2 separate regions of the Homo sapiens genome follow, and region 2 is linked to region 1. Evidence: fine-mapped expression QTL. Tissue or cell type: whole blood. Region 1 holds a variant in brackets; the other region holds the start of a gene. All regions are shown on one strand. Distances are from middle to middle.

Region 1 (8,188 bases):
TATTTTGAAATATTCAGTTAAAGTAAAAATTAGAATTAATAAAATTAAATTTTTGGCTTTTCTGATTTTTTTTTTTTAATGCGGTGCAGTGGGTTAAATAGTGTGTGCCCTAAAGTTCATGTCCCAGCCAGGTGCGGTGGCTCATGCCTGTAATCCCAGCACTTTGGGATGCCGAGGTGGGAGGATCACACATGAGGTCAGGAGTTCGAGACCAGCCTGGCCAACATGGTGAAACCCTGTCTCTAATAAAAACACAAAAATTAGCCAGGCATAGTGACACATGCCTGTAATCCCAGCTACTCGGGAAGCTGAGGCAGGAGAATTGCTTGAACCCAGGAGGCCAAAGTTGCAGTAAGCTGAGATGGCACCACTGCACTCCAGCTAGGTGACAGAGTGAGACTGTCTCAAATAATAATAATAAATAAAGTTCATGTTCCCCTGGAACCTCAAAATGGGGCCATATTTGGAAATAGGTTCATTGCAGATGTGATCAGTTAAGGACATGCAGATGAAATTATCCTAAGCCCTAAAACCAATGACTGGCGTTTTCCTAAGAGAAAGAAGAAGGAGATTTGGAGACAGACACAGACAAACAGTAAAGAAGGCCAAGTGAAGATAGAAGCAGAGGCTGGATCTCACTATGAGACAGACCAGGGTCTCACTATAAGCCAAAGAATGCCAAGGATTGCCAAGCACCACCAGATGCTAGGAAGAGGCAAGGAAAGATTCTTCCCTACAGCCTTCAAAAGGAGTGTGGCCCAGATGACATCTTGATCTCAGACTTCTAGCCTCCAAAACTGTGAATAAAAAAAAAACTGTATTTGTTGTTTTAAGCCACATATTTTGTGGTTATTTGTTATGACAGGCCTAAGAAACTAATACACAGGACTACTAGAAAATGTTAAATAATACATGCGGCCTCCATATTACTATTGGATATTGGTGCACTAGACTATAAAGGGACTCCACCCCCAAGCCCCAGGTCTTCACTATGGACCCTAACAGTTTAAGCATAGAATAGTCTCAGCATCCCTAAGTGGTCCTAACTCTTTAAAGTTATACCCTATTGATATATATGAGAATCCCTTGAGTTTTCCTTACTTGTTTCAGTATTTTTTGCAGGATATGAAAATTGGTTCTTGCATGTGTGCATGCTCCATGGGACACCTAACAACCTAAGTGTACAAAATTTTTAATATATATGGGACTCGTTACTTGATTTGCTAAAAAGGACATACTGTGTCCTTTAAAAAACAGTCAATGCTCTTATCCTTGACTGCCAGCAAAGCATTTTCTGCCAAGTTTTCTGAGCTGCTGCTACCATGCCCTCCACTTTGGCCTTCATCTCCCCATTCCAATGTTCAGGCCTGGCCACTGTTCTTCGAGATAAGAGGTCTCCTTTCAAAACACCTTTCCCATGTCTCTCCTTAATTAGGCATGACAGCTGCTGTCTAAGGGAACTCCCAAGGGAGTTGGCCTTGCAGCTTTAATGAAGTACCAGCTGAAGGACAACCTTTTAGGGAGTGCACTGCCAAGCCAATTACTGTAGCAGCTAGCAACCTGGGCACAGGGAGGGGAAAGCTACCCAGATGACTTCATCCCCCCAAGAGCACATCTCTGCAGACATTGCAGAACCAAGAAAGAAGAAAAGGCCACTGCACTACTTTCAACAGGACTGGGATAATGTTTTCATCCCAACAGGATCCAGGGTTAGAGGTCAATAGTATGCAACCGATGTTGTTATAGTATGCAGAAACCAGGATGGATGATGAGAAAGAAGATAAACTGGATAAACAAGTAGTCACAACCCAGATTACAGACAGACAAGGGGTGGAGAGCTCACAGTTCACGCAGTGTTAATGAGTGAGATGGGTGTGAAGATATTTGAGTGGCATCCAGAGGAACAGGAGAAAGACAGCCAGCTGTCTAGCAAAATTCTGTCATGCTTAAAATATTGGAAAGTCGCATTTGTTGGAAAACTTAAATTAGTGTCAAGGATGTCCCACAGCAAGAACACGTTGATGGAAAATTTATTCAGTATAACTGATCCAACATTTATTTAGCACCCAAAATTAAAAATGTACATGTACTCTTATCTCACTCGATGTAAGTAAAGTATGAATTATTGCCATTATTAAAAGAGAAAGCTGAGGCTCTAGGTGATAAGAGACTTGCCTGGGGTTACTCATTCTACCCTGCAGATGCACAAAATGTGTCCAGGCAGGTAACTGGCACTGTGGTTGTGAGAGAGGAAGGACTCACTCTTATTCACTACCTCTCTGCTCCATGCTGGACAAAGTCATAATGTTTAAATGTCAAGGATCAAAACCGTAACTTCTCACCCAATAAGATCTCTCTAACCAAATATAGATAGGAGGAGTAAATTCTGGTGTTCTATCGCACAGCAGAGTGACTATAGTTAACAATAATATATTGCATATTACAAAATAGCTACAAGAGAGGATTTTGAATGTTCTCATCACAAAGAAATGACAAGTGATTGAGGTGATGAACATGCTAATTACACTGATTTGGCCATTACACAATGTATACATGTTTCAAAACACCACACTATGCCCCCATCAATATGTATAATTATTAGGTGTCAATTAAACACAAAATAAGTTCTTTTTTCAAAAGGAGCTGACAATAACAAATTATCAGGCATGTGAAAAATTGGAATCCTCATACAGTGTTTGTGGGATGTAACAAGGTACAACCACCTTGGAAAACAGTTTGCTAGCTTCTTATATACTAATGGAACAGAATAGATAGCCCAGAAATAAACCCTCACAGATAATGGTCAAATGATTTTGACAAGTGTGCCAAGACCATTCAATAGAGAAAGGACAGTCTTTTCAATAAATGGTGCTGGAAAAACTAGGTATCTGTGTGCACAAGAATGAAGCTGGACCCTTAGCTAATAACACACACACAAATGAACTCAAAATAGATGAAAGACTTCAACATAAAATTGTGAATCTCGGCCGGGCGTGGTGGCTCACGTCTGTAATCCCAGCACTTGGGGAGGCCGAAGCAGTTGGATCACGAGGTCAGGAGTTCAAGACCAGCCTGGCCAACATGGTGAAACCCTGTCACTACTAAAAATACAAAAATTAACCGGGCATGGTGGCTCACGTCTGTAATCCCAGCTACTTGGGAGGCTGAGGCAGGAGAATTGCTTGAACCTGGGAGGCAGAGGTTGCAGTGAGCTGAGATTGTGCCACTACATTCCAGCCTGGGCAACAGAGCAACCATCTCAAAAAAAAAAAAAAAAAAAAAAAAAAAAAAGAGGCCTACTCAGAAGTTGCTGTGAGGTGAGATCGCACCACTGCACTCCAGCCTGAGCAACAGGGCGAGACCCCATCTCAAAAGAAAAAAAAAGAAAGAAAGAAAGAATCTCTTAAAAGAAAATACAGAAAAAATCTTCATGATACTAGATCAGGCAATGGTGTCTTGGATATAATACCAAAAGCACAGGCGGCCAGGTGTGGTGGCTCAGGTGTATAATCCCAGCACGCTGGGAAGGTCAGGAGTTCAAGACCAGCCTGAGCAACAAACAAGACTCCATCTCTACAAAAATTTTAAAAATTAGCTGGACATAGTGGTGCACGCCTGCAGTCACAGCCACTCAGAAGGCTGAGGCAGGCAGATCCCTTGAGCCTAGGAATTCGAGGCAGCAATGGGCCATGACTGTGCCACTGTACTCCAGCCTGGGAAACAGAGCAAGATACTGTCTAAAAATAAATAACAAAAACACAGGCAACAAAAGAAAAACAGATAAACTGGAATTAGGAAAAACTTTAAATTTCTGTGCACCAAAAGACATACACAACAGAGTGAAAAGGCAACCCAGAGAATGGGAGAAAATATTTGCAAACCATATATTTGATAACAGGTTAATATCCAAAATATATAAAGAATGCCTACAACTCAACAACAACAACAACAACGAAATTTTACAATGGGCAAAGGACTTGAGCAGACACTTCTCCAAAGAAAATATACAAATGGTCAATAAACACATGAAAAGATGCTCAACATCATTAATAATTATGAAAATGGGCCAGGCACGGTGACTCACGCCTGTAATCCCAATACTTTGAGAGGCTGAGGCAGGTGGATCACCTGAGCTCAGGAATGCAAGACCAGTCTGGCAAACAAGGCGAAACCCCGTCTCTACTAAAAACACAAAAATTGGCTGGGCGTGGCGGCGCATGCCTGTAATCCCAGCTACTCGGGAAGCTGAGGCAAGAGAATCGCTTGAACCCAGGAGGCAGACGTTACAATGAGCCGAGATCATGCCACTGCACTCCAGCCTGGGTGACAGAGCAAAACTACCTCTAATATATATATATATAAAATAAAATATATATAATTTCTATATATTATATATTATATATAATAATATATAATATATAATATATAATTTATTATGTTATATATAATATATTATAAATTATATATAAAATATATTATATATTATATTTTATACATAATAAATATTTTATATATATTATATTTTATATATTATATATTATATTTTATATATTATATATTATATATCATATTTTATATATTATATATTTTATATATATTTTTATATATAATATATTTTATATAAAATATATATATTTTATATATTATATATTATATATATTATATATTATATATTTTTATATATTATATATTTTATATATATATGTTTTATATAATATATATTATATGTTTTATATATAATATATATTATATGTTTTATATATAATATATATTATATGTTTTATATATAATATATATTATGTTTTATATATAATATATATTATATGTTTTATATATTATATGTTTTATATATAATATATATTATGTTTTATATATAATATATATTATGTTTTATATATGATATATAATACATATTTTATATATAATATATAATACATATTTTATACAAATATATTATATATTTTATGTATATTATATATATTTTATGTATA[T/ATATAT]TATATATTATATACTTTATGTATAATATATAATATATAATATATTTTATGTATTATAAATTATATATTTTTATGTATAATATATTTTTTCATATATATTATTTTTTCATATATACGTATGAAAATACAAATTAAAACTACAATGAAATACCACCTCACTCCCATTAGCATGGCTACTACAAAAGAAACAGAAAACAGTGTTGGAGAGGATGTAGAGAAACTGGAAACCTTGAATATTCCTGCTGAAGACGTAAAATGGTATGGCTGCTATGGAAAACAGTATGACAGTTCCTCAAAATATTAGAAATGGAATTACTATATGACGCAGCAATTCCACTTCTGGGTATATACCCAAAAGAATTGAAAGTAGGAAGTCAAAGAAATATTTGGACACCCATGTCCTAGTATCATTATTAAGCACAACAGCAAGAAGGTCCAAGCAACCCCAGCATCCCTTAAGAGATGAATAAATAAGTAAAACGTAGTATATACATTCAAAGGGCTATTATATAACCTTAAAAAGAAAGGCAACTCTGACACATGCCACAACCTGAATGAAACTTGAGAATGTTATGCTAAGTAAAATAGTCACAAAATGACAAATACTGTATGATTCCACTTAGATAAGGTGTCTATGGTAGCCAAATTCATAGAGATAGGAATGGTGGTTGCCGAGGGGTTGGAGGAAGGAAGAGGGAGTTACTGTTTAATGAACACAGAGTTTCAGTTTTGCAAGCTGAAAAGTGTTCTGTGGATGAATGGTGGTGATGATTGCACAATAATGTGAATTTCTTAATACCAATGAACTAGACACTTAAAAATAGTTCAGATGGTAAACTTTAGATCATCTATATTTTACCACAGTTTTGTTGTTGTTGTTGTTGTTGTTGTTTTGAGACAGGGTCTCACTCTGTTGCCCAGGAGTGCAGTGGCATGATCATGGTTTATTACAACCTCAACCTCCTGGGTTCAAGCAATCCTCCAACTTCAGCCTCCTGAGTAGACAGGACCACAGGCATGTACCTCTACACCTGGATAATTTATTTTATTTTATTTTTTATTTTTATTTTTTGGTAGAGACAGGGTCTTACTATGTTACTCACGCTGGTCTCAAACTCCTGGACTCAAGGGATCTTCCCACCTCAGCCTCCCAAAGTACTAAGATTACAGGCCATGAGCTACCATGCCCAGCATTACCACAGTTTGTTGTTTGTGTGTTTGTTTGTTTGTTTTTAGACAGAGTTTCTCTCTTGTTGCCCAGGCTGGAGTGCAATGGCGTGATCTCAGCTCACTGCAACCTCCGCCTCCTGGGTTTAAGAGATTCTCCTGCCTCAGCCTCCCCAGTAGCTGGGATTACAGGCATGCACCACCATGCCCAGCTAATTTTGTATTTTTAGTAGAGACAGGGTTTCTCCCTGTTGGTCAGGTTGGTCTCAGACTCCCGACCTCAGGTGATCCGCCCGCCTTGGCCTCCCAAAGTACTGGGACTACAGGCGTGAGCCACCATGCCCAGCCCACAGTTTTTTAAGAAACAACAATTTTTTCAAAAAGTTAAACATAAATTTACCACATGACCCAGCAAATCCACTAAGTATCTACCCAAGAGAAACAGAAATATATCCATACTAAGACTTGCATGCAGATGCCTCAGCAACATTATTCATGATAGCCAAAAGGCAGAAATAATCTAAATGCCCATCAACTAGTTAACGCATAAGCAAAATGTGTTCTAGTCATATAACGGATTATTACTTGCAATGAAAGATAAAGAAGTGCTGACATATGCTACAACATGGATGTATCTCAAACACATTACACTCGGCATAAGAAGCCCATCATAAAAGGCCACATACTGTATACTTCCATTTACATGACCATCCAGAAAAGGCAAATTTATAGAGACAGAAAGATTAGTGGTCATCTGGGGTGGGGGGTAGGAACAGGGTTAACTGTAAATGGACCCAAGGATCCTTTGGAGGTGATGGAAATCTTCTAAAAGGTAGATTGTGGTGATGATTGTACAACTTGTCAATTTCTTAAAAATCATTGAATTGTACACTTAAAACTAGAGAATATTATGGTACCTAAATCATAACTCAGTAAAGTTTTTTTTGTTTTTGTTTTTGTTTTGAGATGGAGTCTCGCTCAGTCGCCCAGGCTGGAATGCAGTGGTACGATCTCGGCTCACCGCAAGCTCCACCTCCCAGGTTCACGCCATTCTCCTGCCTCAGCCTCCCAAGTAGCTGGGACTACAGGCGCCCGCCACCACACCTGGCTAATTTTTTGTATTTGTAGTAGAGGTGGGGTTTCACCGTGGTCTCGATCTCCTGACCTCGTGATCCACCTGCCTCGGCCTCCCAAAGTGCTGGGATTACAAGCGTGAGGCACCACGCCTGGCCTTTTTTTTTTTTTTTTTTTTTTTGAGACAGAGTCTCTGTCGCCCAGGCTGGAGTACAGTGGCATGATGATCTCAGCTCACTGCAACCTCCGCCTCCCAGGTTCAAGCGATTCTCCTGCCTCAGCCTCCCGAGTAGCTGGGACTACTAGACGCATGCCACCACGCCTGGCTAATTTTTGTATTTTTAGTAGAGACGGGGTTTCACCATGTTGGCCAGGCTGGTCTCGAACTCCCGACCTCAAGTGATCTGCCCACCTCAGCCTCCCAAAGTGCTGGGATTACAGGTGTGAGCCACATGCCCAGCAAGATATTTTAATAATATTTTTAAAAAACAACACCTGGAGTCCACTGTAAGCAGCTGGGATTGCCAGAAGTTTTCTCTTTGGAAATGAGCAGTTTGAATTATGCTGATGTAATTAGGAGTAGTGCTTCTCAAACTCCAATCTACTCAGGAATCACCTGGAGATCTCATCAAAATGAAGATTAAGATTCAGTGGGTGTCGGGTGGAACCTGAGATTCTACATTTCTAAAAGTTCCTGGGTGAAGACCACTCTTTGAGTAGCCAAGATTTGAAGAGATAAAGATGGTTTGACTTCAGCAACACCTTTCTCTTCTCCCTGAATTAACTTTAGCTTTTCATATACAGATTAAATGGTTCAGTAATCCTTCCCTGGGACACAAGCCCTTTTTCTTCCTCCACTGTGTGACAATCCTTCCAGTTCACACAGTTGTACATGGAAGGCCAGCAGAAGATACCATAATGCTATGACTTCAAGCTGGGATTTTTAAACTATGGGA
Region 2 (8,188 bases), 22 kb after region 1:
CAAAGCCCCTCACCCCACCTCACCCCCGACTAGGTGAAAGGAAACCATGTGCCTGAACCCTCGATAAGGAGCCACAGATAGCAGTAGCCAGGCCATGCAGGGCCTTGTGGACCACAATAAAGAGAAATTAAAGGGCCTGAAGTGTGGGTATAACATGGTCAGATCTACTTTATTTTATTTATTTATTTATTTTTTTTTTTAGGGAGAATCTTGCTCTGTCACCCAGGCTGGAGTACAGCGGTGCAATCACAGCTCACTGCAACCTCTGCCACCACGCCTGGTTAATTTTTTATTTTTTGTAGAGACGAAGTCTCACTATATTGCCCAGGATGGCCTCAAATTCCTGGACTCAAGTGATCCTCCCGCCTCGGCCTCCCAAAGTGCTGGGATTACAGGTCTGAGCCACTGCGCCTGGCCTAGATCTACATTTTTAATGAACACAGAACCAAAATGACTCTGAAGCAACCTTTACCAGGACACAGTTCAAAGATCTGGATCCTGCGAAACAAGTTTGTTTGTTTCTTTTCTTTTTTCTTTTTTTTTTTTCTTTTTCTATTCTCTGGGGTGTGGCACGTCACCCTGGCTGACTTAGCTCCCTTCTTTTTTGGTTTCGTTTGTGAAGTTTAAAGGCCAGATTTATATCAGGCCTGGGACCTGTTTTTCTTTCAAAAGCCCCCCAGTGAACTACCTTATCTCTTTCTAGATCCCTCCTCATTCTCTAATCTCTCTAATCTAACTTGCCAAGGGGCCTGTGGCAAAGGTAGAGCAATCTGTCCTTTTGGGCTTGCTCATATTAAGTGCAGAAACAAGCTGAGAGAGAACCACAGATTTTGCTCTCTTACACTCCCTCGTACCCAATCAAGTCCAGTTAAATTTTTTTTTTTTTTAAAAAAAGCAAATCTGAGATAATGTCACTCTCCAGGTTAAGATTCCTGCACTCCTCAGTGCCCTCTTGGCCACGCACCCCAGCCGGTGGCCCTAGGCAACAAAGGTCTGGCTCAGTTGGCCCACCTCCAAGCTTCCACAACTGCTTTCAGTTTCTCCACTACAAGAAGCTTCACCCCACCCCACTCTGCCCTGCCAAGAGTTCTTAGCAGCCACTGACACTTCCTCCAGGAAGCCAATCCCACCCTACCAGTGCCCCAGTCTATGAACTGTCCTGCTCTGGGTCCGCAACTACTCCAAGAAAGTAGTTTTTCTGAACTTCTCTGTAATTTTGGTTCACTGCCCTCATCCCTAGGCCCCCAACACATGCATACACACACATGCACTTGTGCACACACACAATAAGTAACTCCTGAAGGACAAATTCTGTGTGTCATAGGCCCAGCACCTAGCCCAATGCCTGACACCCAGTTGGTAACCCTCTAAATATTTACTGAATGAATGGATACATAAAAATGAACACTTTCAGCCAGGCATGGTGGCCCATGCCTATAATCTCAGCACTTTGGGAAGCAAGGCGGGCAAATTGCTTGGGCTCAGGAGTTTGAGAACAGCCTGGGCAACAAGGTGAAACCCTATCTCTACAAAGAATACAAATAATAATAATAATAGTGTACTGGCGCATGCCTGTAGTCCCAGCTACTCAAGAGGCTGATGTAGGAGGATCACCTGAGCCCAGGGAGGTTGAGTCTGCAGTGAGCTACGATCATGCCACTGCACTCCAGCCTACGTGGCAGAGTGAGACCCTGTCTCAAAAAAAAAAAAAGACGTTAAAATAAATTTTCTCTTTCTCTTGTTGGGTCATGAAAGTGACCAGGAAACACTCAAATCCCACTTGGAAGTGGTGCTACATCTCACCCATGGAAATTTGAAAAGATCAAAAATATCAATGCAGGCCACATATGCTCATGGTTTTAGACAAAACCAAAACTTCAGGAAAGTTTTCAGATATTAAAGCTACAGCAGGCAGCAGGAAGTCTTTAAGAGGTGCTGGTGATGAGAACCCAATAAATAAATTTTAAAATAAAGCCAGAACAGAAACACTGAGTTGAGACAGTTCCTGCATGAGCCCACTTTGGCTGCGAAACGCCAAGGCCACCAAGTAATTGACCTTGCTCTTTTTTTTCATAGGTTTTTGTGGAACAGGTGGTGTTTGATTACATAAGTTCTTTAATGGTGATTTGTGAGATTTTGGTGTAGTCATCACCCAAGCAGTATGCCCTGTACCCATGACCTTGTTCTTAATTCTGTACATAGCTCGCCCTTCTGCCTACTACAGTCGGTGTCCTGTTCTCATTCGTCTAATGCCCTTCATGATCAACTCCTGGGCTTGCACCTTTCTTAGAAGCACACTCCCCACTTCATCTTTTTTGCATTCCTTCTTCAGAAATAACCACATAGCATTATTATTTGTTTCTGTCTTTTCTGCTAAAATCAAAGGGGACAAATAATATATTGTCCAGGTCTGAATTGGAATGTGGTCTGTGGACTAGCATAGCATCACTTGGGAGTTTGTCAGAAATGCAAACTCTCAGCTTCCACCTCAGACCACCTGATTCATAATCAGCATTTTAACCAGCTTCCCCAGGAGATTCCCATGCACATTAAAGTTTGAGGAGCACTGGGCTAGATCCTACATTCACTCAACAAATATTTATTGAACCAGTGTAGGATACAGAGGTGCTTAACATAAACCTGAGCATATGGTGTGGAAAAAGAGCAAGCATAGACATTCCATTGTGACTGAGAAGCTCCTGCAAGTACCAAGAAGAGTATAACCTAGATGTTCTAGTAGAATAAATTATAGTTATGTCAAAATTCAGAAGTGGTCACTGCAGCTTGGTTGTGACAATCGGGAATCTGGAATCTGGGAACTTGACCCTCTTTACAGCAGGCAGGAAGAATACAGGGAGGTGTGAGTGTGTGTGAGTGTGTCTCTTCCCTGCCTCAGCCACAGGCCGCAGGAGCTGACAAGGCCAAGTCCCCGCCCCCCTCAGCTGTCACCCTGTCAAAACAAAGCCGCTGCTGACAGCGCAGGGCCAGCCTGCCCCGCGGCCTCGGGCAATCCTCCCACCTCGGGAACACAGCCTCCACATCTGGATCTGCAGCTGGAGGTGACAGGGTGCCTAAACTGGCATGGAGAGTGGGTAGCAAGAAATGGGTGTCCTCAAACTGAGCAGTAGCGCCCGCCGCGCTGGGCTGTCACTTTGCCAAATCCTGTTTACACCTCGAGCAGCTGGGACAGCGTTTTAACTAAACAAGTAATAATACAATAATGACAGGGCTGTCACCGCGCGCGGCAGTGCCTCCGCCCCCAGCCGAGGGCGCCAGGCACCACAAGACCCTCGCCTCGGACTCTGCCCACCTTCCCACCCCGCGCTTTCCTCCCCTTCGCTTTCCCAAAGCGCCAGGAGTCCGGGAGTCTTCTCCACCCCCACTCCTTGCACCCAGTTCCTCCCAGTGGGACACAGGAAGGGATCGATTGCAGAAGGGACCACTCAGTCCCCCAAAAGATTTTTCCTTGCCCCTGGGTCACCCGCCACATGGAGAGCACCGCTCCACTCCCGGGAAAGTGACTCCAGCGAGCTCCTACAGAGCAACAAAACCCCAAGGTAGCCCGGGAGCTCGGATGCCGAAGCTACTCCTTTCAAGCGGAAGGAATGAAGGGCTCTCCGTCTTAGTGATCCCCCTTCTTCAAACCCAGCAGGACTCTTATCCAAGAAGAAGCTAATTGGGCGCGGGCGACAAGAGCACTTCCGCGGTGCAGCGGCCCCAGGCGGGAGGCGAGAGGCAGGAGGCGGGAGGCGGAGGTGGAAGCGGGAGGGGGAGGGGGGTCCCGCGGGCTGGGCCCCTAGCACCCATCCGCGGTCCGAGAGCGGCGAGCGCGTACCTTGCAGGCGGAGTACACTCCGAGTTTCTCCAGTTTCTTGGCCCGCGGAGCGGAGCGTAGTTGCGCTTTCTTCACGGCGATTCGGGCCGAGCCACCGCCTCCCGGTCCTTCGGCCGTGCCCGCTGCAGCCACTGCCGTCGCCGGACCGCAGGCGCCCGAGCCCCCGGCGGCAGCGGCGCAGGGGGAGCCCTGCGGGGGCGCGGGCGGAAGCGCCGCAGGCTGCGGGGGCAGCGCCCCGGGCCCGGCCCCTGCCCCGGCTCCTGCCCCGCAGCCGCCCGGCCCGGCCCCGCCAGCCTCGGACATGCCGCCCCGGAGCACGGCAGGAGGCGCCGAGTGTCAGGCGCCGCCGCCGCCGCCAGGGTCTCCCTCTCGGGCTCTGGTAGTCGGGAGAGCGAGACCCTCCCCCCACGCCCTCCCGCCCCCTTCGCCCACCCCCCTCCCCGCCCCCGCCCTCCCCCTAGCGCGCCGCTCGCCCGGCTCGCTCTGGCCGGGCCCCGCGCGCTGATGGTGGTGGCGGCGGCGGCAGCGGCGGCAGCTGCTCCCCCAGGAGGGAGGGGACTAGCGGCTCCGCTGCCGCTGCCGCCGCCGCCACAGCACACGCCCTCCCTTGGTTCTCCTGCCCGGGACTCTGCTCCGCGCCCTGGCTGCGGACATGTTCCTCGGGACTGCGGACTAGGTGTGCGTGCCGGCGGCTGCCAGCCTCACGGTGTCTGCCAGCGCTGGGAGGCCCCCCACGGCCTCTTTTCCGCTGCCCGCGGGGTTTGCACCCCCCACCCCAGTGCTTCGACACCTACCGCTCGCCCGCCAGGGGGCGAGGCCAATCCCTGGGTGTGGGTGAGGGTGGGGACGAGGGTGGGGGTAGGGGCCTGGAGCCCAGGCACCTGCTGGCCACCTCCCCCCTCCGCGGCCCCCCATCCGACCCCCGCACGCCTGCACCAGTGGGAGGGGGCAGCCTCTCAATCATTTGTCCTTTCACTCTCTTCCACCCTGTCTCTGACAGAGAGACAACTTCCTCCACCCTAGCGGGAGCCAGAGGAAAAAAAATATATTTTTGAAAAGTACCCGTCCATGCTAATCTTTTTCTTTGTTGCTAATTCACCAAAATAAAGACGTGATGTTCTCCCTTTCTCTTTTTAAATACTTTCTGTCAAACTATTTTTTAATATAATTAACACTTTCTTCCCATAGCAATTTCTGGGTCAAATCTGCCGGAGGAGGGGAAAAAAACTTACTATTCTCTGTAATTTTTGTTTGAAAGTGCTGGTTGCTAAAAGAAAGATTGTCTAAAAAGCATTGTCAAAAACTATGCAGTGGAAAAAGTTTGAATACAAAAAGTTTGTTAACAGGATTCGTTTCTGGGTGGTGGTTCTATAACGTTACGTAGTTTTCAAAATTGTGCCACCGCGTGCGTATTAACCAGGAAAAAGATATAAGCATAATTCAAAAGAATAAATATCGATTTTGGCCTCAAACTTTAAAAAGAAAAAAAAAACCCTCAACTCAGTGTTTCCAACTCTTGTTGAAAACTGTTGTTTTCACTGTTGATGACTGTGGAGCATACAAGTCAGTGCTGCGTTTGAAAGTGGTGTACCGTTGATCGCCTTCTTAAGCAGGTTTTAAAAGCCCAGGGCTTTTTCTCAGGACCCTTCAGAAGTGCCCTACTTTTTGTTATATGCAATGTGGGTCATAATGTGCTTATTATCAGATTTTATGCATGCTGTATAGCTCTCAGGCCAGACGCTTTAAGGGGTGTGCTTTTCGTGGGAAACATTCCCCTTCTTCTTTTTCCAGATTCTCTGTGTTATTTTGACTTGTAATGCAGGTTAATATATAAACATTGGGAGGTGGGGGAGTTTGTAGATCTAAACAGTGATATTAGCTTAGACAGGGCAAAAGGCAATATTCTCTCCCAACTTGAGTCCAGTCTTGAGGGGATGAAATGGCAGATTCTTATCAGGTTCCATTCAGGACAATTAATTTCAGTGCTTCCTTTCTTAGCTTGACGTGCTTCACGTTACCAGTGTTACTCTCTCCTGGCTCTGCTGAGATGTTTCGCAGATTTTTGCCATTCTCCGCAAAGCAGGGTGAGAGTCTTAAAGGCTGTGCTTCTCTGATCAACCTCTAACATGGATTTAACAGATACTAATAAGAGCTTGGGTTCCACCTTGCAGGCATTTGTCAAACTGATGGAATGATCCACTTGAGATCTGTACATTTCACTGGATATAAATGTTGCCTCAAAAATTTTTAAAAAAAGAAAAATCACAAGCATTGAACTCTAATGGTGCTCTTTGTACTTTGAGATACATCAAAAATAAGATGTATGGATGCCTCCATGCATGGGTAAAGGGTGGATGAACAGAGATATGATAAAGCAAATAGGGGTCCATATAATAGAGTCTAGGTAATGGGCACAGTGCGCAATTCTTTCAACTTTTCTGTATGTTTGAAAATTTTCACAGTGACAATTGGGGGAGGGAACCCAGATTTAACATTAAGTCACCTATCAACTCCTCCTCCCAAGCGTCCCTCAGAATTCAGGAGGCAGACAATTTCCAGGATGTTTTGAAGCAGAAGTAGCCAATCTCCTTTCAATCCACTCTGAAAACCATCACTGTCTGAGTGGCGAATGGCTTGTGCCATTAACTGAACATTATTTTTCATTATTTCCCTGCTCAGAGTACCCAGATGACATACTGCCTTAGGCTGAAGGCCCGTGGTTTCAAGACCTATTCAAAGTGTGTTATGAGCACCAGGCAAGGAAATTTCAAGGGCAAAGGATTCAGGAGGCTTATTGCTTTTCCATAATTAGGTTGTTGTAAGCATTCAGTGTGCTCTTTCTGTGCACACAGTACTTTTAAGAAATAACTACCAAGAAAATAAAAGGCAATGTTTTCATTTACAAAGTATTTACCACTTACTGAGGTAAAGAAGCTACATTCAGAAAATAAAAGCTTGGAGAGTGGGCATGGTAGAGGCAGGCTGACCACTGGAGGTTACTTGTGGTATATTCACACAACAGAATATTTTATACCTGTTATACACAATGACCTTTATAAAAATATAATAACATAGATCTCTAAGAAACACTGTTGAATAAATCTCAGTGCAGCATAATACCATTTATGTTAAAAACAAACTCACATTGACATATAAGCACAATTTTGTATATGTTCAATAAATGCATGGGAAATTCAAAAGTAAGGGAAAGATTTAAAAAGGTACATAGCAATAAAATAAAATTTCAACTTCAGAACACGAGATTATATAACAAGAAGTTGATAAGGTCCACCCCTTCCCATTCTCCCTGGTGCTGCAGTATACTTCAGCCAAACTCAGGAAATGCTTTCCTACCTCAGGGCCTTTGCATTTGCTGTACTATGTGGATACCCTCCACCAAACAGCATGGCTAACCCTATTCATCTGGTATTCCTTGCTCAGAGATGCCTTCCTAAAAAAGGCAAGTTTTGTGGCCATCTATTGTTATATCATCTAGCAGAGTTTCTTGCCATATTCCTTCCTACCAAGGCTATACAGCTTCTGTAATGTACCAGTAACCCTGAATCCCACAGATGGATTGAAATTATCCCCAGTAAAGGCACAGACTGTAAGGGTACAGATCAAGTGGTCAAAGTGCAGGTTTGGCCCAGTACATGGACCATGACTGACATTCTTCCCAGACACCTGCTTTTAGAAACAGCAGTTGGATATGAGTGTAAAATAAAGAGACATGTCAATGCCTAAGTGGGGCTCCTTGGGCCAACCTTCCTCTGAGGGAAGTGGCTATAATTACTGAACATTTATTTTAAATTAAATAAAATAAATCCTCCTAGGAAAAAAGTTTTGAAAATAATAAATGAATCCTAGGATGAGGAAACATAAAATCCCCTTCCCTAGTTTTCAAGCATTTATGAATTAAATCATTTCCAGTGTGAATCTTAACCATGCCCCAAATACCATTAGTGCTTTCTTTTTTTTTTGAGACAGAGCCTCGCTTTGTCGCCTGGGCTGGAGTGCAGTGGCGCTATCTCGGCTCACTGCAACCTCCATCTCCTGGGTTCAAGCGATTCTCCTGCCTCAGCCTCCCGAGTAGCTGGAATTACAGGCGCCCACCATCACGCCCAGCTGATTTTTTATATTTTTGGTAGAGATAGGATTTCACCATGTTGGCCAGGCTGGTCTCGAACCCCTGACCTCGTGATTCACCCGCCTTGGCCTCCTAAAGTGTTGAGATTACAGGCGTGAGCCACCATGCCCAGCGCCATTAGTGCTATTTTATTCAACCTTTTTTTTTTTCTTTTTGAGGCAGGGTCTAGCTCTGTCACCCAAGCTGGAGTGCTGTGTTATGATCAA

What was found. PIP is the estimated chance that this variant, and not a neighbour inherited with it, causes the effect.
Region 2: KAT2B starts here. The variant in region 1 is fine-mapped to the expression of KAT2B in whole blood (INTERVAL, PIP 0.91).

What each region holds. Positions count from the first base shown.
Region 1 is chr3:20,058,638-20,066,825 of GRCh38, reverse strand. The region is part of intron 1 of KAT2B (lysine acetyltransferase 2B); the gene reads right to left. Among named protein-coding and RNA genes, the nearest start is that of KAT2B, 22 kb to the right of the region's middle. RefSeq lists an enhancer at 7,744-7,913. The variant T/ATATAT (reference allele first, on the strand shown) is at 4,992.
Region 2 is chr3:20,036,428-20,044,615 of GRCh38, reverse strand. KAT2B (lysine acetyltransferase 2B) reads right to left here and starts at 4,170. Exons shown (of 18, transcript NM_003884.5): 1 at 3,836-4,170. The coding sequence starts at 4,138. RefSeq lists enhancers at 898-1,057, 1,138-1,307, 2,669-2,858, 3,575-4,545 and silencers at 3,709-3,768, 3,969-4,098, 4,269-4,908.